Homo sapiens: one gene and its partners. The gene in region 3 interacts genetically with the main gene of each other region. Each region holds a gene or a part of one and is shown on either strand. Other genes may lie near its edges. The genes, in order: DNM1L, ACTR2, ATG7, NOL6, LONP1, PDCL and MAP2K3.

Evidence for each region.
Region 1: of ATG7 (region 3) and DNM1L, changing one suppresses a phenotype caused by changing the other (phenotypic suppression), as found in Homo sapiens cells (one large-scale study listed by BioGRID).
Region 2: of ATG7 (region 3) and ACTR2, changing one enhances a phenotype caused by changing the other (phenotypic enhancement), as found in Homo sapiens cells (one large-scale study listed by BioGRID).
Region 4: of ATG7 (region 3) and NOL6, changing one suppresses a phenotype caused by changing the other (phenotypic suppression), as found in Homo sapiens cells (one large-scale study listed by BioGRID).
Region 5: of ATG7 (region 3) and LONP1, changing one suppresses a phenotype caused by changing the other (phenotypic suppression), as found in Homo sapiens cells (one large-scale study listed by BioGRID).
Region 6: of ATG7 (region 3) and PDCL, changing one enhances a phenotype caused by changing the other (phenotypic enhancement), as found in Homo sapiens cells (one large-scale study listed by BioGRID).
Region 7: of ATG7 (region 3) and MAP2K3, changing one enhances a phenotype caused by changing the other (phenotypic enhancement), as found in Homo sapiens cells (one large-scale study listed by BioGRID).

Annotation. Positions count from the first base shown.
Region 1 is NC_000012.12:32,737,950-32,742,180, forward strand, and holds part of DNM1L (dynamin-1-like protein), read left to right. Parts: intron 1-314; coding exon 315-347; intron 348-2,114; coding exon 2,115-2,291; intron 2,292-2,459; coding exon 2,460-2,569; intron 2,570-4,231. UniProt on the Homo sapiens protein: Functions in mitochondrial and peroxisomal division.
Region 2 is NC_000002.12:65,255,031-65,259,261, reverse strand, and holds part of ACTR2 (actin-related protein 2), read right to left. Parts: intron 3,718-4,231; coding exon 3,568-3,717; intron 1-3,567. UniProt on the Homo sapiens protein: ATP-binding component of the Arp2/3 complex, a multiprotein complex that mediates actin polymerization upon stimulation by nucleation-promoting factor (NPF).
Region 3 is NC_000003.12:11,362,460-11,366,690, forward strand, and holds part of ATG7 (ubiquitin-like modifier-activating enzyme ATG7), read left to right. Parts: intron 1-353; coding exon 354-469; intron 470-2,199; coding exon 2,200-2,275; intron 2,276-4,231. UniProt on the Homo sapiens protein: E1-like activating enzyme involved in the 2 ubiquitin-like systems required for cytoplasm to vacuole transport (Cvt) and autophagy.
Region 4 is NC_000009.12:33,460,712-33,464,514, reverse strand, and holds the end of NOL6 (nucleolar protein 6), read left to right. Parts: intron 1-353; coding exon 354-478; intron 479-594; coding exon 595-684; intron 685-1,073; coding exon 1,074-1,268; intron 1,269-1,380; coding exon 1,381-1,482; intron 1,483-1,701; coding exon 1,702-1,851; 3' UTR 1,852-3,162; downstream 3,163-3,803. UniProt on the Homo sapiens protein: Part of the small subunit (SSU) processome, first precursor of the small eukaryotic ribosomal subunit.
Region 5 is NC_000019.10:5,709,651-5,713,881, reverse strand, and holds part of LONP1 (lon protease homolog, mitochondrial isoform 1 precursor), read left to right. Parts: intron 1-628; coding exon 629-748; intron 749-1,879; coding exon 1,880-2,111; intron 2,112-4,231. UniProt on the Homo sapiens protein: ATP-dependent serine protease that mediates the selective degradation of misfolded, unassembled or oxidatively damaged polypeptides as well as certain short-lived regulatory proteins in the mitochondrial matrix.
Region 6 is NC_000009.12:122,821,665-122,825,895, reverse strand, and holds part of PDCL (phosducin-like protein), read left to right. Parts: intron 1-2,698; coding exon 2,699-2,880; intron 2,881-4,231. UniProt on the Homo sapiens protein: Acts as a positive regulator of hedgehog signaling and regulates ciliary function.
Region 7 is NC_000017.11:21,305,014-21,309,244, reverse strand, and holds part of MAP2K3 (dual specificity mitogen-activated protein kinase kinase 3), read right to left. Parts: intron 4,195-4,231; coding exon 4,117-4,194; intron 1-4,116. UniProt on the Homo sapiens protein: Dual specificity kinase. Is activated by cytokines and environmental stress in vivo. Catalyzes the concomitant phosphorylation of a threonine and a tyrosine residue in the MAP kinase p38.

The DNA of each region.
Region 1 (4,231 bases), on a different chromosome or scaffold from region 3:
CTGATTCTTAATCTAAGCCTGCATGCCTTGTTCTCTGGTACAACATAATCTTCTGGAAACAATACACTGAATAGAAGAATATTAATATGGGATACTGTGCTAAGGTCAGATCACTTTAGTCTAATATATATTTTAAAATTATATAACAATGCAATGCATAGTTTATATTGTTGACATGCTTTTGCTTGCAATATAGAAGATGCACACAGAAAAAGTAATTTAAAGAGGAAATTATCCTGCACTTTTTGAATTTCAACCCATTGGTATTTAAATTTTGCTTGTTAAATTGCATGTTTTAACATATCTTTTAACAGTTAATTCAGGACAGCAGAAGAGAAACTAAAAATGTGAGTCTCTTGCTTCAGAATGGAAATGTTGGTACCTTTGGTTCTCACTGAAACACTGTCTATACCACCATTAAAGAACCTGTTTGTGTAGTGGTATCTATCTCTTGTCTGTGTTATGTTCTTAATGTTCCTTTTATCTAACCTGTGGAAGATGGCATTAAACGTTGTTTTAATTAGTAACAATAATAGGCTTTCTCACTGTTTTGTTACCTTCAAGAATAGTTTTAAATTTAGTATTTTGGTAGGAAATTCAGAGATTTCCTAGATTTCAGAGATGGAATTGTATTTTTGGACATTTCCTTTCCTCTTTAAAGATCTTGAGATCTGTTCAGTACTAATAGATCTAATGCTTCTTTCTTATGCTTCCAGTTAGTTTGCACTTGTTACCCTATATATAGCTTCACATATGCTTCAGAAGCTTAAGCAAATTAAAAAAACAAATGGGGACTGTGAGAGTTTGAGACTGTTTTCAATTCTTGATAACCATTTTAGAGGAAAATTAAATAATGTATAAATTATTCAGACTCATCGCTATTTCAAGATTTTCTGCCATTTAGCTCCTTTCCTTAATTATCCAGATTTAAAGTTCTGAACTTCAAATAAAGGTTTATAAATGTCTTATCTTCTCTCAGCCCACTGTGCTCAGATATTAATCAAACCATCTAAATCACTGCACAAGTTTTATTTCATTCATGACGTCACACTGAATGTGCTCTCTCTCCTTAAGATTTCATTTGGTATGTCATTCATGTATAGTTAACAAACATTTAAAAATCTAATTACTCATTTTTAAGTTAATGTGTAACATAAATATACTACTTATATTTAAATGTAGTTCACCTTAACTGACATACTAAAGACAGATTTTAGCAAATATTTTGATTCAGAATGATACCTCAAACTACCATTTTTCTAACTGCCATAATCCTCTATTAAACTTATATAATCCATTTTTAGATTGTAAGATCTTAAAGAATACCTAAAAAAAACCCTCTTAAATGTTGATGAATTGTTTTTCCATTATAAAGTCATTTTTGACTTTTAGAAGTCAAGACTAATACATTTTCTAGAAAACAAGGTACAAAAGCACTTGTGATTAATGGTAGCACTAGATTTCTTTCAGCAAATCCTTAAGAGTACAGAGGTTGAGGGGACTTCTGTTGTTTGTCACATTCCGCATTTGAAACAACTCACAGTGACTGTCAGCCTAAGAATAGCAAATGTAGTCTTGCTTTTTGTTAAAGAGTTCTTACTTATACCTTATGGCATTTTTGTTGACTATTAGAAATGTAAATTGAGAAACATATAAACTCTTAAGTTCAGAGACGTAAGTTCATGGAACTTTTAGAGTTTAACAGTGTTAATGATTACTTAAGAAATTAAACTGAATAGCAGTTCTTTGTGCTTTTAACGAGTAGTTTTGTTTTTAAGGGCAGCATATACTTTTCCTACAATTTAGTGTTTGAAGGGTGGGAGAAGAGGAACGATTTTGAAAAGTTAGCGAATGATAAAGAAAAAAGGAATTAAATAGAACATAAGTTGGTTGATGCCTTGCAAACAACTTAGAGCAGAACTTCTTTATTATTTAGATAGGTCAGGGTTCCAGTTATACATGCTACCTAGTGTCTCCTTCTGACCTCATTATCTGTCTGAATAAACTTCAGATGGGTACTGGATGTATATTGACTACTGTCAAATAAAATGAACTTTGTTTTAGTTAAGGTCAGATATGATGTGGTTGGTATGTTTTGGAACATGTTTTTTCAGGTTGCATCTGGAGGTGGTGGGGTTGGAGATGGTGTTCAAGAACCAACCACAGGCAACTGGAGAGGAATGCTGAAAACTTCAAAAGCTGAAGAGTTATTAGCAGAAGAAAAATCAAAACCCATTCCAATTATGCCAGCCAGTCCACAAAAAGGTCATGCCGTGAACCTGCTAGATGTGGTAAGCCATGACAATTTGGTTTAGGTAATAAGGTAGGTGACCAAGTTAGTAGGAAAACGATTAGACAGAAAGAACTAAAAGTCTCAAAAACTTACATAACTTTCAGATGTTAAAGCTGCCATTTTAGTGTCACAAAAGTAATATTTTTTCCCCCTCATCCCTATTTAGCCAGTTCCTGTTGCACGAAAACTATCTGCTCGGGAACAGCGAGATTGTGAGGTTATTGAACGACTCATTAAATCATATTTTCTCATTGTCAGAAAGAATATTCAAGACAGGTTAGTATTACTTAATATAAATGACGGACTTTAATACTTCTGGATGATTCTGTGATCTGTTTTGAAAAATACATGTATTTTTACAATTTTAGGTTTTTATTCTAAATCATCAAGTGGATTTTCTGATAGTCCTTGGGTAACTTGTAGCAAGACCCATTTTGTTAACATAGAATGACTAGGACCTCATGTATCAGCTAGAAAAAGCTATTAAAAATGAGAGATTCTTTTGTTCTATCTGGCTGCCACATTTTGAGTCATTTAAGAAAATCTTTTTCCTAAATTTTAATTTAGTAGTTTCATTAATTATTTTGGCTAGTAACACTGACTTGCCTTTTTAATTTAACTTGGTTTTCCAAAGTATCAAAACGAATGTCTTTTACTAGGAAATATGTGTATTTTTTCTCGTTCAGAATGTTTTTTCATGTGTCTAGTCCCTACTGCATCTTCTCCTTCATGTTGCCTGGTATGTCATTTCATGCAGTAATAGGGAGAATATACATTTAGTTGTGTGAAGTGATCTATTAGAAAATATTCTGCATCCAGTTTTTGGTAATCTGTCAGCAGCTAAGATGAATTTTACTGCACAGAGTAATAAACAGTCTAATACTTCATATTGAAATAAATGATTTTTGTCTGTAGAACCATTTATCTTTTTTGCTTGTAGACTTTTTAAACCCGTAGCTTGTAGTAGAAATAACAGTTCCTAGTGTTTTACACTGTGGGCCTGAAGAAAAAAATTCCATTTGTTTCCTTCCTTGCCCCCATCCTCTGCAGAAGGTGTTTTTGAGATGGAGTCTCGCTTTGTCGCCCAGGCTGGGGTGCAGTGGCGCAGTCTTGGCCCACTTCAACCTCTGCCTTCTGGGTTCAAGCGATTCTCCTGCCTCAGCCTCCTGAGTAGCTGGGATAACAGGTGTGCACCACCATGCCCAGCTAATTTTTGTATTTTTAGTAGAGACGGGTTTCACCATGTTGGCCAGGCTGGTCTCGAACTCCTGACGTCAGGTGATCTACCTGTCTTGGCCTCCCAAAGTGCTGGGATTATAGGCGTGAGCCACTGCACCCGGCTCACTTAATGTTTTTAAGCCTCATCCATACTGTAGTATGAATCAGTATAGTCACGCACCACATAACATTTTAGTCAACAGACCACGTATTTGAATGTGTTCCCGTTAGATTATGATACCATGTTTTTGCTGTACATTTCCTATGTTTAGATACACAAATACTATTGTGTTACAGTTCCCTATTCAGTACAGTAACATGCTGTACATGTTTGCAGCCTGGAGCAATAGGCTATCCCATATAGCTTAGGCGTGTCATAGGCTATACCATCTACGTTTGTGTAAGTACACTCTGTGCTGTGCATGTAATGAAATCACCTAATAATGCATTTCTCAAAGCATATCCGTGTCATTAAGTGACATATCTTTTGTGTGAATAATACTAGATTATGTAGATATACTGTGTTTAAGCATTCATCAGCTGATGTTTGGATTTTTCTCACTTCTTGGCTATTATGAATAAATGCTTATTGAAGAGTTTTGAAATAAAGATGATGAAAAGAAGGTAAAGTATCAAGAATTGTTGCTTTTGTTTTTTTTTTTGAGACACAGTCTCACTCTGTTGCCCAGGCTGGAGTGCAGTGGCGCGTTCTTGGCTCAC
Region 2 (4,231 bases), on a different chromosome or scaffold from region 3:
GTAGAGACGGGGGTCTTGCTTTGTTACTCAGACTGGTCTTGAACTCCTGGGCTCAAATGATCCTCCCATCTTGGCCTCCCAAATTGCTGGGATTATGGGGAAGAGCCACCGCGCCTGGCCAATTACAATGATTGTTTAGATTCCAGCTTTGGTCCCAGCTACCTAGGAGGCTGAGGTGGGAGGATCACCTAACCCTGGGAGATTGAGACTGAAGTGAGCCGAGATCATGCCACTGCACTGCAGCCTGAGCAACAGAGTGAGGAAACCCTGTCTCAAAACAGAAAGAAAAAAAAAAGGTTACCAAAACTTATACCCTTAAAAAAACCACCTCCACCTTCAGGTGGGTTCACATGAAATCACCCAAAATATCTGGAAAAACTTCACACAGCAGATCTTATTAGCAAAACCTCCTGCCTTAAGCACTTGAAGCCTGATAGTGTGGCTTCTCTCCATTCTCTGGCTGCTGGCCAGCATGGGGTCAAGTTTTCTAATCACCTTAATGAACTGTTAAAACTGCAGGCATCCCATTTCTTTGCACCAAATCTTATCCTGTTCTGTATTTGTCCACCCATGTCCCTCCTCACTTATTCATCAGCTTATTACTTTATACTTGTGTATATGTGTGTGTGTGCATATATATATCAAATATATATATGGATTTTGTTTTGTTTTTGAGACAGGGTCTCGCTCCTTCACCCAGGCTGGAGTGCAGTGGTGCAATCCTAGCTCTCTGCCTCAAAACTTGAGCCTTGAACTCCTGGGCTCAAGCAATCTTCCCACCTCAACCTCTCAACTAGCTAGGACTACAGGCACGTGCCACTACGCCTGGCAAATTTTTGTATTTTTTTTGTAGAGACAGGGTCTCATTATATTGCCCAGGCTGGCCATGAACTCCTGGCCTCAAGTGATCCTCGTATCTCAGCCTCCCAAAGTGCTGGGATTACCGGTGTGAGCCACTACACCCAGCCTATTTGTATATATTTTTGTAGCCTACCTCAAATTCTTTGAGAAAAGAGAGAAGGAAGAAATAAAACATGTTTTACATTCCTAGTTTGCTTATCTTTTGCCCTGTGCCAGCCACTTTCTTCCAAAATAGTCAGGTAGATGGAAAATCAGACAACTAGAGAAACTGTCAAGAAGACTTCAGGAAGGAATCTCCAGAGCAAATCTGGAGATGATTAAGTTACAAAATGGGTTTACTCCTAGAAGAAAACCTAGCCAATACCATTCAGGACATAGGCATGGGCAAAGACTTCATGACTAAAACACCAAAAGCAATTGCAACAAAAGCCAAAATTGACAAATGGGTTCTAATTAAACTAAAGAGCTTCTTGCATAGCAAAAGAAACTATCATCAGAGTGAACAGGCAACCTACAGAATGGGAAAAAATTTTTGCAATCTATCCATCTGACAAAGCCTTAATAACCAGAATCTACAAGGAACTTAAACAAATTTACCAGAAAAAGACAAATAACCCCATGAAAAAGTGGGCAAAGGATACGAACAGACACTTTTCAAAAGAAGACATTTATGTGGCCAATAAACATAAGAAAAAAAGCTCATCATCGCTGGTCATTAGAGAAATACAAATCAAAACCACAAAATCTCATGCCAGTTAGAATGGCGATCCTTAAAAAGTCAGGAAACAACAGATGCTGGAGAGGATATGGAGAAATAGGAACGCTTTTACACTGTTGGTGGGAGTGTAAATTAGTTCAACCATTGTGGAAGACAATGTGGTGATTCCTCAAGGATCTAGAACTAGAAATACCATTTGACCCAGCGATCCCATTACTGGGTATATACCCAAAGGATTATAAATCATGCTACTATAAAGACACATGCACACATATGTTTACTGCAGCACTATTCACAATAGCAAAGACTTGGAACCAACCCAAATGCCCATCAACGTTAGACTGGATAAAGAAAATGTGGCACATATACACCATGGAATACTATGCAGCCATAAAAAAATGAATGAGTTCATGTCCTTTACAGGGGCATGGGTGAAGCTGGAAACCATCATTCTCAGCAAATTAACACAGGAACAGAAAACCAAACACCAAATGTTCTCATTCATAAGTGGGAGCTGACAATGAGAACATATGGGCACAGGGAGGGGAACAACACACATGGGGCCTGTTGGGTGGGGGGCGGCAAGGGGAGGGAGGTATAGCATTAGGAGAAATATCTAATGCAGATGACAGGTTGATGGGTGCAGCAAACCACCATGGCACATGTGTACCTATGTAACAAACCTGCATTTTCTGCACATGTATCCCAGAACTTAAAGTATAATAAAAAATAAATTTAAAAAAATTTTAAATGGGGGTTTACTGAATATTTGGATCACTATCTTAACTTTTTTTTTTTTTTTTTTTTTACCGACATGGAGTCTTGCTCTGTCACCCAGGCTGGAGTGCAGTGGCACGATCTCAGCTCACTGCAACCTCTGCCTCCTGGGTTGAAGCAATTCTCCTGCCTCAGCCTCCTGAATAGCTGGGACTACAGGTGCCCACCACCTTGCCCAGCTAATTTTTTGTATTTTCAGTAAAGACGGGTTTCACCATGTTGGCCAGGCTGTTCTCCAACTCCTGACTTCAGGTGATCCGCCTGCCTCGGCCTCCCAAAGTGCTGGGATTACAGGCGTGAGCCACCGCGCCCGGCCAACAACAAATTTTTTATAATTACTTTAAAAATGACTATTTTGCATATATTTGTGAATATGTAGAGCTAGTATGCATCATATGGTTTTAAAATACTTGCCTTCATTGCCTATTACTGTTTCATTTTAGTAATAACTAGATCAAAGATGAGACCTGGAAGTACTTTATACTCAGACAAATTTAATAGGCTTAAGATGGTAATTCATTAAAAATTCAAGTAGGATCAACTCCTCTGGTGTTATAAACTATAACCAGGTACTAAATCTCATTAGTTACAATTTCAAGTTAACATTTAACACCTCATTAAAGAATATTAAGTCAGGAAAGGCTGCCACCTACTGAATTAGTAAAGCAATGCTCTAGAATGACCATTTCCAAAGTATGTTTCTTAGATCACTAATCCCATGAAATTCTGAAAAGTCCTAGAGCATAAGTCTGAAAAACACGCATACTATATTAATTGTGCCCATATTAGCATACCAAAGGCTCTGAGTTCTACAGTGAAGTGAAATCAACTCTTTCTCAAACTCATCTGACAATGTAATCCTTTTTAATTTTTGTGAAATGCTTATTAGCATCTCAGGGAAATAAAGTTCTGTAAAACATACATTGAGAAATGCTATGCCAAATACTAGAATCTCAAAATAACATCTCGCATCTAATTATATCCTAGTATAGAGAGTAATTTATGATTCTTGCCTTAATTTGCATTATATGGTGCCCTAAAATAATTAAATAGAAACTTAATGTAGAAAGAGACATTAAAAGTCACACATATACATATTACAACAACCCAAGACAAAAATACTGATTCTAAGAAAACCTCCTTAAGCTGACACCAATAATCATGGCTGTCCACTTTAAAACACATATATATTATACACTGGAAACACTTACTGTATAAGATTCAACTAATACTGTGGTTTCTAAGGCCAGTTTCTGCTCTTGCTCAATATTATATCCCACGTAACACAGTTTTTCTTTAATCATGCGAACCGTTTCAAAATCAGCAGAGTGGTTGAAGGCGTATCCTCGCAACAGAAGTAGCTGGTACAAAACAATAGCAATAAGTTCATAATACATCTGAATGAGTTCTACTCTGCAAAAGCTAGTAATGCTCATTAAATATGTCACATCAATAACAAACAGAATGGGCAGTGGATCCTCAGCTCCTACTATTTCAGAAGCAGGATTTTATCCGCCATAAAAGGATTTATATTTCAGTTTCAGAGAGGGTAAAAGAATTAACAATTCATAAGTAAGTCAGTAAAATGACTAGAAAAGTCAGTTTTTGAAAAGCACTGCATGAGTACTAATGTTTTGATAGTTTTGATAAACAATCAAAAGTATATTAATGAATAAATATTATTTTAGTACTGGACTCCTGTAGCCTGCAGTTTGCTCACACAATTAATGCCATATTTATGAAATGCCCCCAAGTCTTTAAAAGTTTTATCTTTAGCTTCTAGTACTGTGTCTGGCACATATTAGAAGGACAATAGCATTTGTTTAACGAATGATAAGGGAATTATTGGGATACTCAAAGGTATAATCTCCATTG
Region 3 (4,231 bases):
TGTCTCTGTCACTTAACTACCAAGCACAGTAGAACTGAATTGAGTCACTTAAAGGAACACATGATGCAGTTCCATTATATGAGGCAGCTAAGCCCTCATTTTTGGTTAATATCCCCCAATCTGTTTAGGCTACTGATCCTTTTTAGCATATCACCTCATTTAGTTACCTAAATTGTATATTTTGTTTATCTTGATAATCTCAAGAAATGATGTACTTGAGGCTGGATGTTCTTTGCCAACAATGAGCATCTGGTTATAATTTAAAGCTTTGTCACAGAGGATTTCATACTTGAGACAGCTAGAGTTGAATGGAGTAGAACGTTCTGCACACACCAATGATTGTTTCTTTGCAGTCAACCAGAGACCGGACCTTGGACCAGCAGTGCACTGTGAGTCGTCCAGGACTGGCCGTGATTGCAGGAGCCCTGGCCGTGGAATTGATGGTATCTGTTTTGCAGCATCCAGAAGGGTGAGTTTGCTAGTAGGAGATGAGTATTTAAACAAAGCTTTTGTAGGCAGTTGTTCATCAGTGTCTCCCATGGCCTTTTCTCAGTCTGACTTTACAGAGAATTTCACTATTTCACCCTCAAAAAAACAAGACTAGAAAAAGCAGGTCTGGTTCTTTGGGCTGAGATAACTTGGCATGTTTCCTTTGTGGCCACATTTCTGCATCTTTCCGGACAAAGTCACTATGGTTTATTTTATTTTTCCAACGCTTATATAGGGCTTACTTTGTGCTAGGCACTGTTCTAAGCACCTTAGAAATTTTGCCTCCTTCAATCTTTTTTTTTTTTTTTAACGAGACGGAATTTCGCTCTTGTTGCCCAGGCTGGAGTGTAATGGCACGATTTTGGCTCACTGCAACCTCTGCCTTCTAGGTTCAAGTGATTCTCCTGCCTCAGCCTCCCAAGTAGCTGGAATTACAGGCATACGCCACCATGCCCGGCTGATTTTTGTATTTTTAGTAGAGATGGGGTTTTGCCATGTTGGTCAGGCTAGTCTTGAACCTCTGACCTCAGTGATCAGAAGTGATTCACCCACCTTATCCTCCCAAAGTGTTGGGATTACAGGCGTGAGCCATTGCACCCGGCCTCCTTTAATCTTCATAGCAAACATATTAGGAAAGAACTATTATTATTAGTCGCAGTTTTGATGGGGAAATCAAGGCATAGTGAGGATAAGTAAGTGGCCAAATTTACATAGTAAATGGAAAAGCCAGGGTTTAGCTCAACCAGTGTGGCTCCAGACTATGTTTAATGACTTTGTTATGCTGTTTGCAATACAGGCAGCAGAAAATCGAATTTTTGAAAGATTTATTTTTCCAGTTCTCAGAAAGTCAATATGCAAATTAACATGAATATTCTATTTCTTGTGTGACTCAAAGCTTTCCTCAGCAGTTGAAAATTGTGGTTGTATATGTAACTAGTATGGGTACTCTGAGATAAATGAAAAGCGGGGCTTTTTTGTCTTCCTCTTTGTCATCCACCTTAGCTATCTGTCATTTAAGTTTATTGCCACTCTCTGACAGGAAGTATTTGGGATAAAATCTTTGAGAGCTGACTTTATGCTTCCTTGACACTGAGCCTCTGTCTGCCACATTTGCCCTGGTCATAGTTTAAACACCAGGTCCTGTGTCACATCTTTTTGGTGCCACAAGTATCACTCCATTGTTCAGAGAGTAGTGTATTAGTTCTGCCCAATTCATTCTTCACTTTTATTTCTTCCATTTCATTAGCATTTATATCAGCTCAAGAAGTTAAGGTTAGAAAATTTTCCACTTCAAATTTTCAGTACAGAAATGTGCTGTGATGTTTGACAAGACTATTTCATAGTAAGTGAGTTAATGTTTATTGGCCTCTGATATGCCGAACATTGCACTCGGCAGTTGATGTAGTAGATTCCTCATTTATTAATCAGAGCTCCCTCATTCCTACTTTATAGATGATGGATCTGAAGCACAGAAAAGTTAAGCAACTTGCCTATGGTCACAAGCTCAGGTCTTTCTGACTCCAAACCATGCATGTTTAAATTACTCTTCTTGCCCTTTGTCCCAGGGAAATTAGTTTTTTGCTAACTTACACTGCCCAGCAAGGGGCATTTTAGTTATCCTTATGAATCTTATGTAGATTTCTGCTAGATCATCCTCCCATGTGTTAAACTTGGATTAAATGAGCAGCTCTGATTGTTTCCTGTCCTCAGGGGCTATGCCATTGCCAGCAGCAGTGACGATCGGATGAATGAGCCTCCAACCTCTCTTGGGCTTGTGCCTCACCAGGTTAGTGATGTGGAAGTGAAATCACAATTCTTTTGGTACAGGGGGAAAGCATGTGGGGTCTCTTTGCCATTCCATCTGCCCAGCCCACTTCATATCCACCCTACTTACCCTGCAGCTGGGATTTCAATGGGAGAGCTTTCTGACCACCTGGAAGGTATTCCATTCTGCGGGATAGTGATGGGAGGAAATCACGAACGAGAAGCATTGCCCAGAGTCTTTGATGCGTTTTGTAAACTGACTAGAGGCCTCATAATGCAATAGGAACAGAAAAAACAGGCTTTGGAATCAGTCATACAATGGTTTAAATCCCAGCCCTGCCGTTATAAAGATGGCCTTCTTTGGCCAAGTCACTAAACTTCTCTGAGGCTTAGTTTTCTTATCTGTAACATAGAGAAGGTAATGCTGACATCACCTGGTAGTTGTATGGATTATGGATGGTTGCTAGAAAGGGCTCAGCAACAGTGTATATCATAGGCCCTCAACAAACAATGCCTGCTGTTTCTTTACTGTTGCTTGTTATTATTATTGACTCTGAACCCAAATAGAAAACCTTTATAGGCAGGCATGAGAAAAACATTAGAAGCATGCAGGGTCACCAAAAAGTGGGGTGTCTTTTCAGAAAAAGAATCCAAAGCATCATGAGGAAGTTCCATCCCTTAGGGAGTAAAAAGAAAAAGGCAGTGGGATGATCTTTTAGAATTCATGTTGCCTCTTCAGTCATTTTCATTACTATATTTTTGGGAGATTGAAGAGGTTTTCCAGTCTTATTTGGAAATCATTTTTTTTTAGATTCCATGTATGTATCCTCTCCTGTAATGTGACTGCTGTTCCCATCAGTGAAATCGTGATGGTGCCCACCAGTCCTATCTGGTGATTTGCAAGGACAGACTCAGACGAGTGCAGAGAGCAGAGTGACTCAGCTCATGCTTGTCTCTCTCTTCCTCCTCGCCACCCACCTTCTGCCAGCTAGGGCGGCACTGTCATATTCAGTTTAGGATGAGAATCAGAAGAGGGGAAACGACTTCTTCATGGTCACAGAGACTTAGTGGATGAGCCACAATCCATACCTAAACTTGGCAGTCTGACAAATGTTCTTTCAAAGGTCTTGTGAGTTGAAAGATCCGTGGCCTGCATGTTGGGAGATTTTGCTTCCTGTTGGTACCCCAGCCCCCTTGCACAAAACCACCCATAATAGAACTTGTGGGCCGGGCGCGGTGACTCATGCCTGTAATTCCAGCACTTTGGGAGGCCGAGGCGGGTGGATCACGAGGAGAGGAGTTTGAGACCAGCCTGACCAACATGGTGAAACCCCGTCTCTACTAAAAATACAAAAATTAGCTGAGCGTGATAGTGTGCACCTGTAATCCCAGCTACTCAGGAGGCTGAGGCAGGAGAATCGCTTGAACCCGGGAGGTGGAGGGTTGCAGTGAGCTAAGATCGCGCCATTGCACTGTGGCCTGGGCGACAGAGTGAGACTCCATCTCAAAAAAAAAAAAAAAAAAAATAGAACTTGTAGAGTTCACTTAGCCTCCCAGAGTCTCAGTTTCCAAATCAAGAAAAGCAGGTGCTTTACTTTGTGTCCAGGATTACATCTGACACGGCCTTGAAAACCACAAAACACTATGAAAATGTGCCCCCCTCTGTCCCCCACACACAAGGTGGCATTTTTTTTTGACATGCATGTGTTAATCTTTTCTACAGAGACATTTCACGTAGGACCCAAAAGACGCGGTAATAACCATCTATCATAAGGAAGCTGATCTCCAGAGCCTACCTCTGCTATTTATGCTGTCGTATCTCATTTGAATCTTTCCCAAGTCTCCCGCCTTCTTCTGACCTTGAGATGTGCCCTCATCTCCTTTACAGACTTTATATTGAGAAGGGCCTTAATTAAATTTTCAGTCATGCCCCTGCACTGGTTTCCTTCTTTAAGTCCTTTATGTTAAATTACTGCAG
Region 4 (3,803 bases), on a different chromosome or scaffold from region 3:
AGGCACTCGGTCTCTGCAGAGAGCAGGGTGTCAGGTTCCTAATTCCCCAGGTGTGTGGAAGCCCATGGTGGGAGGGGGCCAGGGGCAAGACTCAGCTTGTGCAGGCCCGGAAACCAGACTGGGGGTGCCAAGCAGTGGAAAATTTTGCCTCTGGGCTGAGGTTGGGCGATTAATGCCCCACCCAGTTGAGGCAAATGCGATGTCCCTTTCGTCACCTTTGCCACTTGGTGGGGGGGAGTGTTGAAAAATACCTGTGATGAGCAGCCGTTGGGGGCACCGTAGGAGGACCTGGGGGAGTAGAGGGTGTCTTACAGGGAGGAGCAGGCTGACCCAGGACCCATTCTTGTCTCTAGTGGAGGAGCAGGTGGAGATCCGCAGTGGCTTCCTGGCAGCTCGGGCACAGCTCCCCGTCATGGTCATTGTTACCCCCCAAGACCGCAAAAACTCTGTGTGGACACAGGATGGACCCTCAGCCCAGGTTCAACCCCATACCTGCCCCCTAATGTGTGGTTTTCTTCCCAAGGAAAAAGCAGGCCCAGCCTGACCTGGGAGAGACCCACTTCAGTTCCAGTCTGATGTGTCTGTACCCCGCAGATCCTGCAGCAGCTTGTGGTCCTGGCAGCTGAAGCCCTGCCCATGTTAGAGAAGCAGCTCATGGATCCCCGGGGACCTGGGGACATCAGGGTAAGCTTCTGACCAGCAGTGACTCCAGGGCCTCTGGGGATTCTGTCTTTGGAAGTTCAGCGTTCAGGGATCTCACAGGAGACCCGGTCCCCTTGTTTGGTGAGACTGAACAGAGGAGGTGTTGAAGCTGCTGTGGTGCCTGGGGTGGCAGAGCCTGGGGAACCTGGGTTCCATCTGGGTCTCCTGTTTCTAGCCTGTGCTCCTTCTGCCGGGCTATGCAACAGCTGTTTGCTCTGTGGGTCTTGGTGCTTCAGTCTTCAAATGGGCAGGTGGGCCCATAGAGGGTGGTCAGATGGAAGGAGGAAACCAAGGTGGGCGTGTGGAGAGGTTTGTGGTCCAGTTCCTCAGTCAAGGGGGTCCTGCTGACCCCTCCTTCTCCCCTTCCTTAGACAGTGTTCCGGCCGCCCTTGGACATTTACGACGTGCTGATTCGCCTGTCTCCTCGCCATATCCCGCGGCACCGCCAGGCTGTGGACTCGCCAGCTGCCTCCTTCTGCCGGGGCCTGCTCAGCCAGCCGGGGCCCTCATCCCTGATGCCCGTGCTGGGCTATGATCCTCCTCAGCTCTATCTGACGCAGCTCAGGGTTGGTCCTAAACAGCTGAATGACCTGGGGAGGGGACTTCCAGGTGAAGCTGAGGCTGTGGAGGAGCTCTTAAATGCCTGCCTATAATCTTCTCTGTTCTGTCCCTTTCTAGGAGGCCTTTGGGGATCTGGCCCTTTTCTTCTATGACCAGCATGGTGGAGAGGTGATTGGTGTCCTCTGGAAGCCCACCAGCTTCCAGCCGCAGCCCTTCAAGGTGTGCTGGCTGGTGACAGCTGTGTTCCTGAGTGTGTGCACGTGGTTCTGTGTGGGCATGCATGTCTGTGTGTAGTCTGTCCTATGGGCAAACCCGTGTCAGGTGCGGAGTGTATGGGCTTGTGTTTCTATCCCCACCACCCCCACTCTGTACCCAGCTTGGTGTCTCTGGGTGTGCCGCTGTGACACTCAACCCACATCTCTTCTCTGATTTCCCCAGGCCTCCAGCACAAAGGGGCGCATGGTGATGTCTCGAGGTGGGGAGCTAGTAATGGTGCCCAATGTTGAAGCAATCCTGGAGGACTTTGCTGTGCTGGGTGAAGGCCTGGTGCAGACTGTGGAGGCCCGAAGTGAGAGGTGGACTGTGTGATCCCAGCTCTGGAGCAAGCTGTAGACGGACAGCAGGACATTGGACCTCTAGAGCAAGATGTCAGTAGGATGACCTCCACCCTCCTTGGACATGAATCCTCCATGGAGGGCCTGCTGGCTGAACATGCTGAATCATCTCCAACAAAACCCAGCCCCAACTTTCTCTCTGATGCTCCAGCATTGGGGCAGGGGCATGGTGGCCCATGTAGTCTCCTGGGCCTCACCATCCCAGAAGAGGAGTGGGAGCCAGCTCAGAGAAGGAACTGAACCCAGGAGATCCATCCACCTATTAGCCCTGGGCCTGGACCTCCCTGCGATTTCCCACTCCTTTCTTAGTCTTCTTCCAGAAACAGAGAAGGGGATGTGTGCCTGGGAGAGGCTCTGTCTCCTTCCTGCTGCCAGGACCTGTGCCTAGACTTAGCATGCCCTTCACTGCAGTGTCAGGCCTTTAGATGGGACCCAGCGAAAATGTGGCCCTTCTGAGTCACATCACCGACACTGAGCAGTGGAAAGGGGCTATATGTGTATGAATAGACCACATTGAAGGAGCACAATGCCCTCCTGTGTTGATGCCACTTCCCAGGGTGGAGACAGTGGAAAAGAACCGAGGACAGGAAAGGATTGGGTAGGTGAAGGGGTCAGGGGACTGGTAGTCACCCAATCTTGGAGAGGTGCAAAAAGCACTGGGGGCTACCCGTTAGCTGCATCTGCCCTGGCTGTTTGCCCGTTCATGTCACAAACTGCCACTACTATGTACCTGCAGTGGGGTTGCAGAGATGGGGGAGACTCAAGTCTTACTCCCCAGGAGCTCCCAGGGCCCAAGGAGGAGAATGCTGCCTCCTTTCAGTCTGGTCTACACCCACTTTCTGGTAGCCTCTCTGCTTCCTGTAATTCTGGCTGTTTTTCCAGACTCAGCTCAAATAGTGCCCCTCCTTAAGCCCATCCCTCGCCCCCAGCCTGAGGTGATCTTTCCCTCCTCTGAACTATTAGAGCAGTTACTGTCTGTTCAGTTCGTTTGGCAGGCACACACAGTGGCATAAATTCTATTGTTTTGAACTCTGATTTAAAATTAAATTGCAGCTGGGCGTGGTGGCTTATGCTTGTAATCCCAACACTTAGGGAGTCAGGAGAATCACTTGAGCTCAGGAGTTCTAGACCAATCTGGGCAACAGAGAGACCCCATCTCTTTTAAATAAAAAGTTAAATTGCTTAATTTCCCCCGTATTCCTGGCCTGTCTGCCCCTTTCACATAATTTTAACCTGGTTTCTTGTATGTAAACTCCTTGAGGGCAAGAACATGTTTGAACATAGACTTCTTCGTGTCCTTCCTAGCACCTATTACAGTGCTTTGCTCAGGGGCCATCCAGCACAGGCAGATGGGGGGCAGAGAAGCCCACTGGAAGATTGCAGAGTAAAGGGAATCCATTTGTGAAATCTGCCTGCAAGAAGTGGGTGGTGACGGTGAAAGAGAAAGCCTAAGAGATTATAGAGTTGACGTTTATTGAGGGCTTAATAGGTGCCAGGCGGGGTTAGGTGGTGGTATCCGTATCTTATGTGCGGAAACTTGTCGTACAGTCATAACGAGCCGTATGGAGTAGGTACTTTCATTTACCTTCATTTTCTGAGTGAGAGAACAGGCTCAGCGCAGGGGCCCGTTGTGTGAGGAACTTTGATGCCTGGCTAGCAAGCTCCATCCTCAAGATGAGAAGCTGCATGTGGGAACTCTGGCCTCCAGTTCTGTCTCAACTGTTGGTCTTTGTGAATCACTGCTTGCCTCTACTGTCACTGCCATGGAGCAGCTCAGCCCAGGGTTGAAATTAGAATAGGGAGGGAATAAATTGGCTGGCTGTGTGAGCTGGAGTCCACATCTCTCCCTCTGCTATTCATTCTTGAGCTTCAAGCATCAACGTGCCAGGCTTTATTTTCCAGGAGTGAAATGTAATCCCATCCCTT
Region 5 (4,231 bases), on a different chromosome or scaffold from region 3:
TGTAGAAATGAGTTCCATGGGCCGGGCGTGGGGTCGCACACCTGTAATCCCAGCACTTTGGGAGGCTGAGGCATGTGGATCACCTGAGGTCAGGAGTTCCAAAGCAGTCTGGCTGACATGATGAAACCTCGTCTTTACTAAAAATACAAAACATTAGCCAGGCGTGGTGGCAGGTACCTGTAATCCCAGCTACTCAGGAGGCTGAGGAAGGAGAATCGGTTGAACCTAGTAAGTGGAGGTTGCAGTGAGCTGAGATTACACCATTGCTCTCCAGCCTGGGCAACAAGAGCGAAACTCCATCTCAAGAAAAAAAGAGTTCCATGCATGCATTCGAAGCAGGCTCTGTGATAGCATAGAAGAGACTCATCAAAGTCCCACCTGGACCATGTCTTTGTGGCTGACTTAGCGAGGAGCCACCCACCCGGTCCTGTGACCACTGGGGCAGCCCTGGCCTGGCAGAAGCTCCCCTAGGCTCTGGAGCTCCTGCGGGAGCCAAGGAGGCCGCTCTTGGTTTTCAGTAGCATTTGGTAGGGGCGTTTCTTTTCTCTCCCTCCTCCATCTCAGCCAGAGACATCCTGCCTAGCATGAAAGCCATGTTCCAACATTCCTCTGTGCTCTTCTCCCACAGCAATGAGTCGGATGTGGTCGAGAGCCTGGATGAAATCTACCACACGGGGACGTTTGCCCAGATCCATGAGATGCAGGACCTTGGGGACAAGCTGCGCATGATCGTCATGGGACACAGAAGGTGGGTGGCTGGCGGGGGACAGTGGGAGGTGGGGGCAGAGTACCACGCGGGAGACCAGCCAGGATGCCTTATGCCCCAGCATCAGCCTCTGCCCTGTCCGTCAGCCCAGCGGCTTTCTCACTAGCACTGAGGCCAGAGCTGGGGGTGAGAGTGAGACATGTCACCTCTGGACCCCTCCTGTCTCAGAAAGGGGTGAGCTGCAGGGCCAGGCATGGTGACTCCTGCCTGGAATTCCAGCACTTTGGGATGTCAAGGCAATTGGATCGCTTGAGCCCGGAGTTTGAGTCCAGCCTGGGCAACGTAGCGAGATCCCATCTCTGCAAAAAATGTAGAAAAATTAGCTGGATGTGGTGGCTCATGCCTGTGGTCACAGCTACGCAAGAGGCTGAGGTGGGAGGATCGCTTAAGCCCAGGAGTTTGAGACCAGCCTGGGCAACACAGCAAGACCCTGTTTCTATAAAAAATAATAAAAAGTTAGATGTGACGGCGTGTTCCTGTAGTCCCAGCTACTTGGGAGGCTGAGGCAGGAGGATTGCTTGAGCCCAGGAGGTAAAGGCTGCAGTGAGCTATGATCACACCACTGCACTCCAGCCTGGGCAACAGAGCGAGACCCTGAGTTCAGGTGGTGCCAGGTGCTCTGAGGGGAGACGCAGACAGCGTGAGAGGTGGAGGTGGGTAGCTTTTGTGAAGTGCTTGGGGACAGTCTTTGCGATGGTGTCCTTGAAATCGAGACCTGAACAACAGGAAGGAGCTGCTATGAGCTGAGTCCAGGGCACAGAGTCTTGGAGACCAGCCTGTGCCCGGCCAGGCTGACACCGTTTTCGACAGGAGGCCCTGGGGCTTGTCACTGCAGCTTATCCACGATACTTAGGATGGGGACAGTGATGCATTGGCGTGGGATGCAGGGAATGCCTGAATCTGGCTGGAGTCTAAGGGGTGGAGGGGACACTGGTTGGGAGGCCCCGAGAAAGCGGCTCACGTCTCCAGCTTGAGGACCCTGTAGCCACCCTGTGGCTCCAGAGGTCTGGGCTCAGCGGGACCCTTGGACCACCTGTGCCACCAGGGAGGCCTCAGCCGGGTCCAGCTCCCAGCCTCAGCGGCTGATTCACACCTGCCTTGCTCCCGTGTCAGAGTCCATATCAGCAGACAGCTGGAGGTGGAGCCCGAGGAGCCGGAGGCGGAGAACAAGCACAAGCCCCGCAGGAAGTCAAAGCGGGGCAAGAAGGAGGCGGAGGACGAGCTGAGCGCCAGGCACCCGGCGGAGCTGGCGATGGAGCCCACCCCTGAGCTCCCGGCTGAGGTGCTCATGGTGGAGGTAGAGAACGTTGTCCACGAGGACTTCCAGGTCACGGAGGAGGTGAAAGTGAGTCCGTGCGTCACGCAGGGCGGCCACAGCTGCCTCCCCCACGGGCTCCCTTGAGCCGTTCCTGCGGCCTCTCCGAAGAGTCATCTCCCACCCTGAGCCCCTTAGGAAGGGTCTGGCCTGTCTGGAACTCAATTCTAATGGAACATAGAGGGTGCTTTTCCTCCCAGAGGTCTTCGGAAGACTCTGGGATGGGAGAGGCACAGGAAATTCGCTGGAGCCTGTAGCTGCTCAGGAAGGAGACAGGGTTGGAACCCAGGTCCAGCCCCAGCCCGTGTCCCCTGTGCCAAAGCCTCCAGCGGTTACCAAGACACCTTCCAGCCCTGGCTTCTTCCCACCAAGCCTGGGAGGTTGGTACCAGTGGTTGCAGGACAGGAAACAGCCTGTTGGCCACCCTGATCCCCCAACCTAGGCCGTCCTGCCTGCCTGGTGGCACAAGGAGTCAGCTTCCGAGGTGGGCAGGCTCTTGGCGGTGCCACCTGCCCTCCCGCTGTAGGGACAGTCAGCGAAGCTAACCAAAGGCCTGAAGCGTGTCAGCTCCTTACCTGTGTGCCTGGTGTCATCAGCCTCTTCCCCAGGCTGCTGCAGGGCCTAGGGGGAAGTGCTGTGAGCAACTGGTGATGTCTGCTGTGGGCGCTGGCAGGGGTGGAAAGTCCTGTCCACAGGCCCACCTGGGTTCTTGAGGTCAGCACTTCTATCCTGCCCCACTACCCCTGCGAGGTTTTTTTTTTTCTTTCTTTTTTTGAGACAGAGTCTGGCTCTGTCAACCCAGGCTGGAGTGCAATGGAACGATCTCAGCTCACTGCAATTTCCACCTCCCAGGTTCAAGTGATTCTCATGCCTCAGCCTCCCAAGTAACTGGGATTGCAGGCACGTGCCACCACACACGGCTAATTTTTGTATTTTTAGTAGAGACGAGGTTTTACCATGTTGGCCGGGCTAGTCTCAAACTCCTGACCTCGGGTGATCCGCCCACCTCAGCCTCCCAAAATGCTGGGATTATAGTCGTGAGCCACTGTGCCCGGCCACCTGTGAGTATTGAGCACTTGAAGTAGAGCTGCTGTGGCCAAGGAACAGAATGGAACATTTTATTGGCTGGGTACAGTGTCTCATGCCTGTCATCCCAACACTTTTGGAGGCCAAGGAAGGAGGATCACTTGAGCCCTGGAGTTCAAAACCAGCCTGGGCAATATTGAGACCCCTGTCTCCACAAAAAAAATAAAATCCCTGGGCATGGTCGCACACACCAGTGGTCTAACCTGTGGGAGGATCGCTTGAGCCCAGGAGATTGAGGCTGCAGTGAGCTGTGATCGCATCACTGCACTCCAGCCTGGGCAACAGAGTGAGACCCTGTATCTAAAAATTAAAATAAAAAAATTCAGGCCGGGCACGGTGGGCTCACGCCTGTAATCCCAGCACTTTGGGAGGCCGAGGTGGGCGGATCACCTGAGGTCAGGAGTTTGAGACCAGCCTGACCAACATGGAGAAACCCCGTGTCTACTAAAAATACAAAAAAAAATTAGCCAGGTGTGGTGGCTTATGCCTGTAATCCCAGCTACTCGGGATTACTGAGGCGGGAGAATTGCTTGAACCTGGGAGGCAGAGGTTGCGGTGAGCCGAGATTGCACTATTGCATTCCAGCCTGGGCAACAAGAGCAAAACTCTGTCTCAAAAAAAAAAAAAAAAAATTCAGACAGCCACCAGCGGCTACACTGTCCTGGGCAGCTCAGCATTGGGGCATTCCCTGTGAGAATCTTGCAACAGGGGGAAGACAGCGACCAAACTTACAAATGTGATTAGAACTGGCAAGACCCCTTAGGGGCAGCGAACTTGTTCTTTTTTTTTTTTTTTTTTTTTTTTTTTGAGATGGAGCCTCTGTCGCCCAGGCTGGAGTGCAGTGGCGTGATCTCGGCTCACCGCAAGCTCCACCTCCCGGGTTCACACCATTCTCCTGCCTCAGCCTCCCCAGTAGCTGGGACTACAGGTGCCCGCCACCACACCCGGCTAATTTTTTGTGTATTTTTTAGTAGAGACGGGGTTTCACCGTGTTAGCCAGGATGGTCTGGATCTCCTGACCTCGTGATCCGCCCGCCTTAGCATCCCAAAGTGCTGGGGTTACA
Region 6 (4,231 bases), on a different chromosome or scaffold from region 3:
TTGTAGAGATGGGGTCTCACTTTGTTGCCCAGGCTGGCCTCACACTGCTGGCCTCAAGCGATCATCTGCCTCAGCGTCCCATAGGCATGAACCAATGCACTGGGCCCATATTTATTTTTAAGAGGGAACCTAAACTTCTTTTCATAATTTTAAGAGAGATTTTTATATCCTTTGCTCATTTAAAAAATTAGGTGTTTTTTTTCTTCTTGGGGAGCTATAAAGGAAATTAATCTGTGATATGAGTGGTAAATATTTCTTTCAGTTTGTTGTTGTCTTTTGACTTTATATTCTTTTGTTCTTTTCCTGGATGAAAAATTTTATTTTTATGTACTTAAAAGTATTTTATAGTTTCTTAATTTTGCATTTTACTTAAAAGGCGTTTCTTCACCCTACTTTATAAAGGGCCTCACTTTGCTGTATAAAAAGGTTCTCCTGGCTGAGCACAGTGGCTCACGCCTGTAATCCTAGCACTTTGGGAGGTTGAGGCGGGTGGACTGCCTGAGCTCAGGAGTTCGAGACCAGCCTGGGCAACACAGTGAAATCCCGTCTCTACTAAAATACAAAAAGTTAGCCAGGTGTGGGGGCATGCGGCTGTAGGCCCAACTACTCGGGAGGCTGAGGAAGGAGAATTGCTTGAACCCCGGAGGCAGAGGTTGCAGTGAGCCAAGATCATGCCACTGTACTCCAGCCTGGGCAACAGAGTGAGACTCTGTCTCCAAAAAAAAAAAAAGATTCTCCTATACTTTTCATTAGTATTTTTGTGATTTCATTTTTTACACTTAAATATTGATTCATGTGGAATTCACTTTGATGCAGGGTGCAGTAGGGCTCCAGTTTAATTTTTTTTTAGATTGCTACTCAGTTGTTTCAGTACTGCTTAGTGAATAAGCCATCTTTATTATCTTGAGATGTCACTTTTATTATGTACTGAATTTCTCTGTTTATGTTGGGTCTTTAGCTGTACTATGTGGTCTCTTCCATTGATTTGTCTTTTACTGGGCTGTGTCATACTGTTTTTAATTATTGTAGTGTTATATTTTAGTATTTGGTGAGGCTAGACCCTCTTCAATTAACTTTTGCTTTATTTTTTCCAAAGGAAATTTAGGAGCCGGACACATATGTGTGTTCATGTATTTTCATTGGGAATGCATTAAATATATAGATTAATTTAGGGATCATTGGCACTTTTGTGATGTTGAGTATGTCTGTTCAGGAACATGGTATTGCTTTTCCATTTATTCAAGTCTTTCAAGTATTTTTTGGGAGCATTTTAAAGTTGTCTTCATATAGATTTGTATATTTTTTTTCTGTGAAACCAATAGACTCCAAAGCTTTAGTGGCTTATGGCAACAAAGGTTTATTTCTCATTCACGTTACATGCAGCCTGTAGGTCAATGGCAGCCCTGCTTATGTTTCGTATGTTCTTTCATCTAGGAGCTAGGCTGAAAGAATAACAGCCTCAGTTTGGCTGTGTCCCTCTATTTAGGACACACCGTTTTCATGGCGAAGCATAGAGAGCAAGAGAGGAGCTGTTGGAAACATGGAATGGCTCATACACGGCATACTTTTTGTTTTGCTCAGACATGGCATACTTCATATTTGCTCACAATCCCATTGGCCAGCAAGTCGCATAGTCAAGCCCAGCCTCAATGGGCTGGGGATATATGTACTCATCCCACAGGAGGTACCACAAGTCACATAGCAAGGTGCAAGGACATATAAGTCCTTCGGCAGCACAGGGCTTGACGGGTTAAGGGTAGCTGGAATAACAGAACAGGTTGTATTACAATCTTGTTATAAAAAAATTGTTATAAAAAATTCAGAGGCCAGGTGCGGTGGCTCATGCCCATCATCCCATAGCACTTTGGGAGGCCGAGGCGGGCGGATCACCTGAGGTCAGGAGTTGGAGACCATCCTGGCCAACATGGTGAAACCCTGTCTCTACTAAAAATACAAATATTAGCTGGGCATGGTGGCGCATGCCTGTAGTCCCAGCTGCTCGGGAAGCTGAGGCAGGGGGATTGCTTGAACCTGGGAGGTGGAGGTTGCAGTGAGCCGAGATCGCGCCATTGCACCCCAGCCTGGGCCACAGAGCAAGACTCAATCTCAAAAAAAAAAAAAAAAATTCAGATAATATAGAAGTACAGAAAGAAAAAAGTAAAAGATCTCTCTCACCAGTTGCTTAGATCCTACTACCTGGAGACAACCACTGTTAACAGCTTACATATCCTGCAAGCTCTTATTCTATAAACACACAAGTGTATATACAAACATGTATGCATATCTATGTACATAAATTATGTATATACATACAGGTCTTTTTTAATAGAAACTAGAGGATTGTACCGTGATATTCTAAATTTTGCTTTTGTAATAACCTCATATATTTGGAATATCTTTAATGGCAGGAAACACAGAGCTGCTTTACTCTAAGAGTTGCTTTATTTTCCTTTGAGTAGGTAGATGATAATTTTTTAAACTCATCTCCTAATGTTGGGCATTAGCTTGGCCCTTGTTGCAGGGTACATCATTGTGTATAGGCCACTCTGCCCTGTGGCAGAGTACACAGAGTCCCTATGATAATTGTGCAGTAGATGGAGCAAGCTTCAGGCAGATGTGAACTCCTACCTACAGATGTCAGCTGGTCCATAATTCCCTGCCCATTCTCCTTGGTCACATCCGTGTTCACCCTACTCAGGCCCAAAAGGTGTGATCAATGACTGGCGCCGCTTCAAGCAGTTGGAGACAGAGCAGAGGGAGGAGCAGTGCCGGGAGATGGAAAGGCTGATCAAGAAGCTGTCAATGACTTGCAGGTCCCATCTGGATGAAGAGGAGGAGCAACAGAAACAGAAAGACCTCCAGGAGAAGATCAGTGGGAAGGTAATTAGCAGTACTCAGGCTTTTCTTAGAGTCTGCTGTGGCTGCTAGAGCTGGGTGAGTGATTCAAGAGGTGGAGGATGCTTGATTTGACCTCCAAGAAGTTGTGCAGTGCAGGAGAAATCATAGAGCCCTGTCAAAACTCAAACCCACCCAGCTTTGGATCTCAGTTCTGCTACTAGTGACTGTGGGAGAGTCTCTTCCCTTCTGAATCTGGTGTTTCAATGGTTAAATGATGTATCCTCCCCGTGCAGGGCTGTGTTGTTAATATGCCCATCACAGTGTCTGGCCCATTGAAAGTGCTCAGTAAATTTTAGTTTCCCTTCTTTTATTGAGGTTTTATCTTGGGCCAGAAATAACCCTCTTAGGGTGGTGGTATTATCCCCTTCTTACAGATAATGGAAGCAATGCTTAGAGGGCATTAGAGGCTTGTTCAGGGCAATGCAACTGGTAAATTCTAGTAGGCGCTAGGGTTCTAACCCAAATACTCCTGTTTCTTCCATGATGTTGCTATTTCATCTGAAGCCTATTCATGAGAATTTATTCTAAGGAGGCATTATAATAAGCAAACAGATACTCTGGAAGATATTTGGAAGTAGGCACCTGATGGCCTTTTTTTTTTTTTTTTTAATAGAGACAGGGTCTATGTTGCCCAGGCTGGTCTCGGAACTCCTGAGGTCAAGGGACCCTCCCACCATAGCCTCCCAAAGTGCTAGGATTACAGGCGTGAGCCGTGGTGCCCGGCCCGTGATGGCCTCTTATCCTATCAGTATTAAAAGGGATTCACTGTTTCTCTGGATGCCCTCTGAGTGTGGACGAATGTCTGTGAGTGCCTGAGATCATTTAGTTATGGCCCAAAGCTAAAATACCACACAGGATCAGGGAGCAGATAAGAGGATTAAGCTGGGAATCATTCACCTTGACCAGGAGGCTGATTTTAGGACATTACACTTAGCCAAAGACTTCAATAGGTCAGAAGAAGCCACTCTGGTAGACTGAGTTGAAGTGGAGGGCTGCAAGATGGGAGGAAAATTGGCAATAAGTAAAATAGTGAACTCAGAATGTTGCTGGTTATGATAAAGTAACAACGTGTTCTGATCTAGTGTGATCTCCCACTCCCTGTTCCCTAATCTATGCAACATTAGGCAGAGTTAGGTTTTATGAGAGGAGCGAGGATGTCTTGCTGCACCGGGGCAGGGGTAAGATGCTTTCGTAGCTTAAGCTGTCTCTTGGGCATTGTGCCTGCTGCTCACAGCTGCTTCCTGATACTGAGGTGAGAGGCCAGAATGAGGCAACATCATATCATCACATGGATCAGTCTTGTGAGAGGCTGTTCCCGTCCTGCTGATTTATC
Region 7 (4,231 bases), on a different chromosome or scaffold from region 3:
CTAGCACTTCAGAGAACTTCCTTTTAGATGCCAGCCATCATGAAAGAACTCCAACTCTGCTGACACTGCCATGCTCTGAAGCCCAGGGAGCAGGCCAATGTGAGTAAGTTGCATGGAGAGGCCAGGCAGAGGAGGCCCATGTTTGTGAGGCCGTCTTGGGCCTTCCAGACCAGCCCAGCCCAGCCATGACCCCAGCCAATCCCAGGTACAGCAGAAGAGCCATCCAGCTGAGCCCAGCCACAGTGGTGGAAACATGAGAAATAAGAAACCGCTGTTGGTTTGGGTCACTAGGTTCTAGGGTGGTTTGCTATGCAATATTTGATAACTGAAATATACACTTAGCACACACTTGTCCAAGTTCCACCAGCCATATCAGAAGGCCACTAGCCATGGTGGCCCCAACAATCATGATGGATGGACAACTGGAAGGGAGACAGGGAGATGGGGAAGGGACATAGGGTGTGTGTATGTGTGAGGTAGTCATGAGCAGGGTCTCTAATATCCAACCAGTTCTGTGCAGTCTAAATACAGCAAGAACTTGTCCTTTGCATCAAACTTAGGACTTGGAAAACTGTTATTGCAGATACAGCACCTGCCTTCAGCCTGAATATTCCTCTCCACCTCAAAAAAAAAAAATTTTAATTGAAAAATTACATGTCACCAATTAAAGAAAATTGAAGGTATGGCCCAGTCCCACCTCTCTGACAAAATTATTTCGACTTTGAGTCTTTCCCAGTCACTGTCTACAGATACACTATTTATAAAGTTACAGCCACAGGCCAGGCGCAGTGGCTCAAGGCTGGGCGTGGTGGTTCACGCCTGTAATCCCAACACTTTGGGAGGCTGAGGCAGGTGGATCACCTGAGGTCAGGAGTTTGAGACCAGCCTGGCCAACATGGCAAAACCCCGTCTCTACTAAAAATACAAAAATTAGCCGGGCATGGTGGCAAATGCCTGTAATCCTAGCTACTTGAGAGGCTGAGGCAAGAGAATTGCTTGAACCTGGGAGGCGGAGGTTGCAGTGAACTGAGATTGTGCCATTGCATTCTAGCCTGGTCGACAGAGTGAGACTCCCTCAAAAAAAAAAAAGGCCAGGCACAGTGGCTCACCCCTGTAATCCTAGCACTTTGGGAGGCAGAGGCAGGCAGATCACCTGAGGTCAGGAGTTTGAGACCAGCCTGGCCAACATGGTGAAACCCCGTCTTTTTTAAAAATACAAAAATTTGCCAGGTGTGGTGGCTCACGCCTATAATCCCAGCTACTGGGGAGGCTGAGACAGGAGAATTGCCTGAACGCGAGAGGCAGAGGTTGCAGTGAGCTGAGATCATGCCATTGCACTCCAGGCTAGGCAACAGAGTGCAACTCCGTCTCAAAAAAAAAAAAAAAAAAAAAAAAAAAAGATAGCCGGGCATGGTGGCACGAGCCTGTAATCCCAGTTACTCAGGAGGCTGAGACAGGAGAATCACTTGAACCTAGGAGGCGGAGGTTGCAGTAAGCCGAGATCGTCCCATTGCACTCCAGCCTGGGCAACAGAGTGAGACTCCATCTCAAAAAAATAAAAATTAAAAATAAATAAAGTTATAACCACATGATGATGATAACAATGGTAGCAGCAACACCAGTAAAACCCACAACACCTGCGTCAACTCTCTACCCACCAGACACTTCTCTTCGCTCGCTCCCAACCCTCCCTCCCTCTCCTCTGACCCAGCCACCCAGGCACACAGCAGGCACAGCCCCACCTCAGGGCCTTTGCACTTGCACCCCCTGGTCTACCCTGCCCTCAGGTCAGCAGGGTGCCCTCCTTGCAGAGGCCTCCGCATCTGCAACAGTGGCCTTCCACCTGTCCCCAGAGCCACCCCTACCTGCTCCAGTCTTCTCCACCCCCGTGGCATAAAAAGGAATTTATTTGGTCTTTGTTCCTGGCATGGAGCTCCTAAAACCCTTGGAATTTCCTGAGTGACAGGAGTGGCTTTGTTATCCACAAGGAGCCTGAGTTTATGCTAATGAGGTGACTCAGGGTAAGGCCCCTAGACAGCCTCAGATGGGGCTGCTCCCCAGAAAACCCAGCTGATTATAGAGGGTGGGAACTCTCAGCATCACCCGCCAACTGATGCTGAGAGGAGGGGGGCCTGGAGACTGTGCTCTATAAAAACTTTCAGTGGGTGCAGTAGCTTGTGCCTATAATCCCAGCACTTTGGGAGGCCGAGGTAGGCAGATTGCTTGAGCCCAGGATTTCAAGACCAGCCTGGGCAACATAGTGAGACCCCTTTTCTACAAAACATTAAAAAAGTAGCTGGGCATAGGGGCACACACCTGTAGTTCCAGCTACTCAGGAGACTGAGGTAGGGGGATGGCTTGAGCCTGGGAGTTCAAGGCTGCAGTGAGCTGCGATGATACCACTGCACTCCAGCCTGAGCAACAGAGTGAGACCCTCTCTCACAAAAAACCTCTCCATGTGAGGCTGGGCGTGGTGGCTCATGCCTGTAATCACAGCACTTTGCGAGTCTGAGGCGGGCAGATCACTTGAGGTCAGGAGTTCAAGACCAGCCTCGCCAACATGGCAAAACCCCATCTCCACTAAAAATACAAAAATCAGCTGGGCATGGTGGTGCCTGTAATCCCAGCTACTCGGGAGGCTGAGGCACAAGAATCGCTTGAACCCAGGAGGCAGAGGTTACGGTGAGCTAAGATTGTGCCACTGCATTCCAGCCTGGGTGACAAAGTGAGACTCTGTGTCAAAAACAACAAAATTCCATGAGCTTGAGAAGCCTGTAGGTTCGCAAGCACAGGGAGGTACCAGGAGGGTGCCAGGCCCTGAGAGGGCACGGCAGCTCTGCACCCCACACTCACACCCCTCCCCCGTGAGTCTCTTCCATCTGGTTGGCCCTGAGTTATATCCTTTCTGATAAACCAGTAAACACAAATAAAGTGTTTCCCTGAGTTTTGTGAGCCATTCTAGGAAATTATCAAACCTTACGAGAGGGTCATGGGGACCCCCAATTTGTAGCTGGTCAGTCCAGTAGTATGGGAGACCCGCTACTTCCAACTGGTGTGTGATGTTGGGGGCAGTCTGGTGGGACAGAGCCCTTAACCTGTGGGGTCTGTGCGAACTCCAGGTAGCATCAGAACCGAACGGAACTGCAGGGCACTGGGTGGGTGTCTGGAGAATCCGAGAATGGGTTGCGGTGTTGGAAAACACCCCGCCAGCGCTTCTCACCACATCTTACTGATTCTATCTGACGGCCTCATCCCCAACACCAAACAGTCAAAGGGACTAGGGACAAGCAGGAATGTCCTGGGCCAGGCTTCCCTGGGCAGGGAAGGAGCTGACGCCCAGGACACTCCATTGGTCCCAAGCCACTCAACTGGCCAAGGCCACCAGCCTGAGCCCGACCTGCTGATGGCATCGTCCTTCCACGCGTCTCCTGCACAGCTTCCTAGCCCTGGCTGGGGGACACATCCTGGTGGTCTTCCCATCCCTCCAATCCACTGTCCACAGGGGAGCCAGAGCGGGCTCACCCACACCTTGACCTGAGCCCCAACACGGAAGGCATGGGGTTCTGCCAGGCAACTCCAGAAGCAACTGCTCTGGGCCCATCCCTACACCTGGACTTCGGACTTCTGCCACATCTGCCCTCACCCTACCCAAGCCAGGGATGCCTTTGGCTTCCACAGGCCCAGGATTGAGAGCCCGCCCACCCTTTCTACCACCCCACCGCAATGTACCAGGACGCCACCGACAACAAACCTTCTGCTATGAAATATTTTTGAAAAGATCTTTACCATCTTGCTTTTGCATGATTTACATACCAGGAACTTACGTAATTTGGGATTGGCTGTGATTTCTCAACAAGCACCAAGAACTCCAGAGAAAGCCCTGTGGCCACCATATCACAAAGCACCCAGGACTTCACGATGAGTGACCCTGACCCTAGGAGGTTCCCTTAAATAGATGGTAATTTCTGATGGCACATTTTCTTCTCAGATTTTGAAGCCAATACTTCTTTCCAGAACCTAAACTATTTGATGAGTCCCCCAAAAGCTCAGGGCCCCAGGCACGGCTCCACCCACCCCACCTGACCACCAAGGGCAGGCCCTGGCCCCCCACAGTACCATGGTGATGCCCAGGCTCCAGACGTCGGACTTGACATTGTAGCCCTTCTGGTTCAGCTCTGGGTTGATCCTCTCAGGCTGCAGGAGGGAAGAGTGAGGCGTGAACACCCGCCCC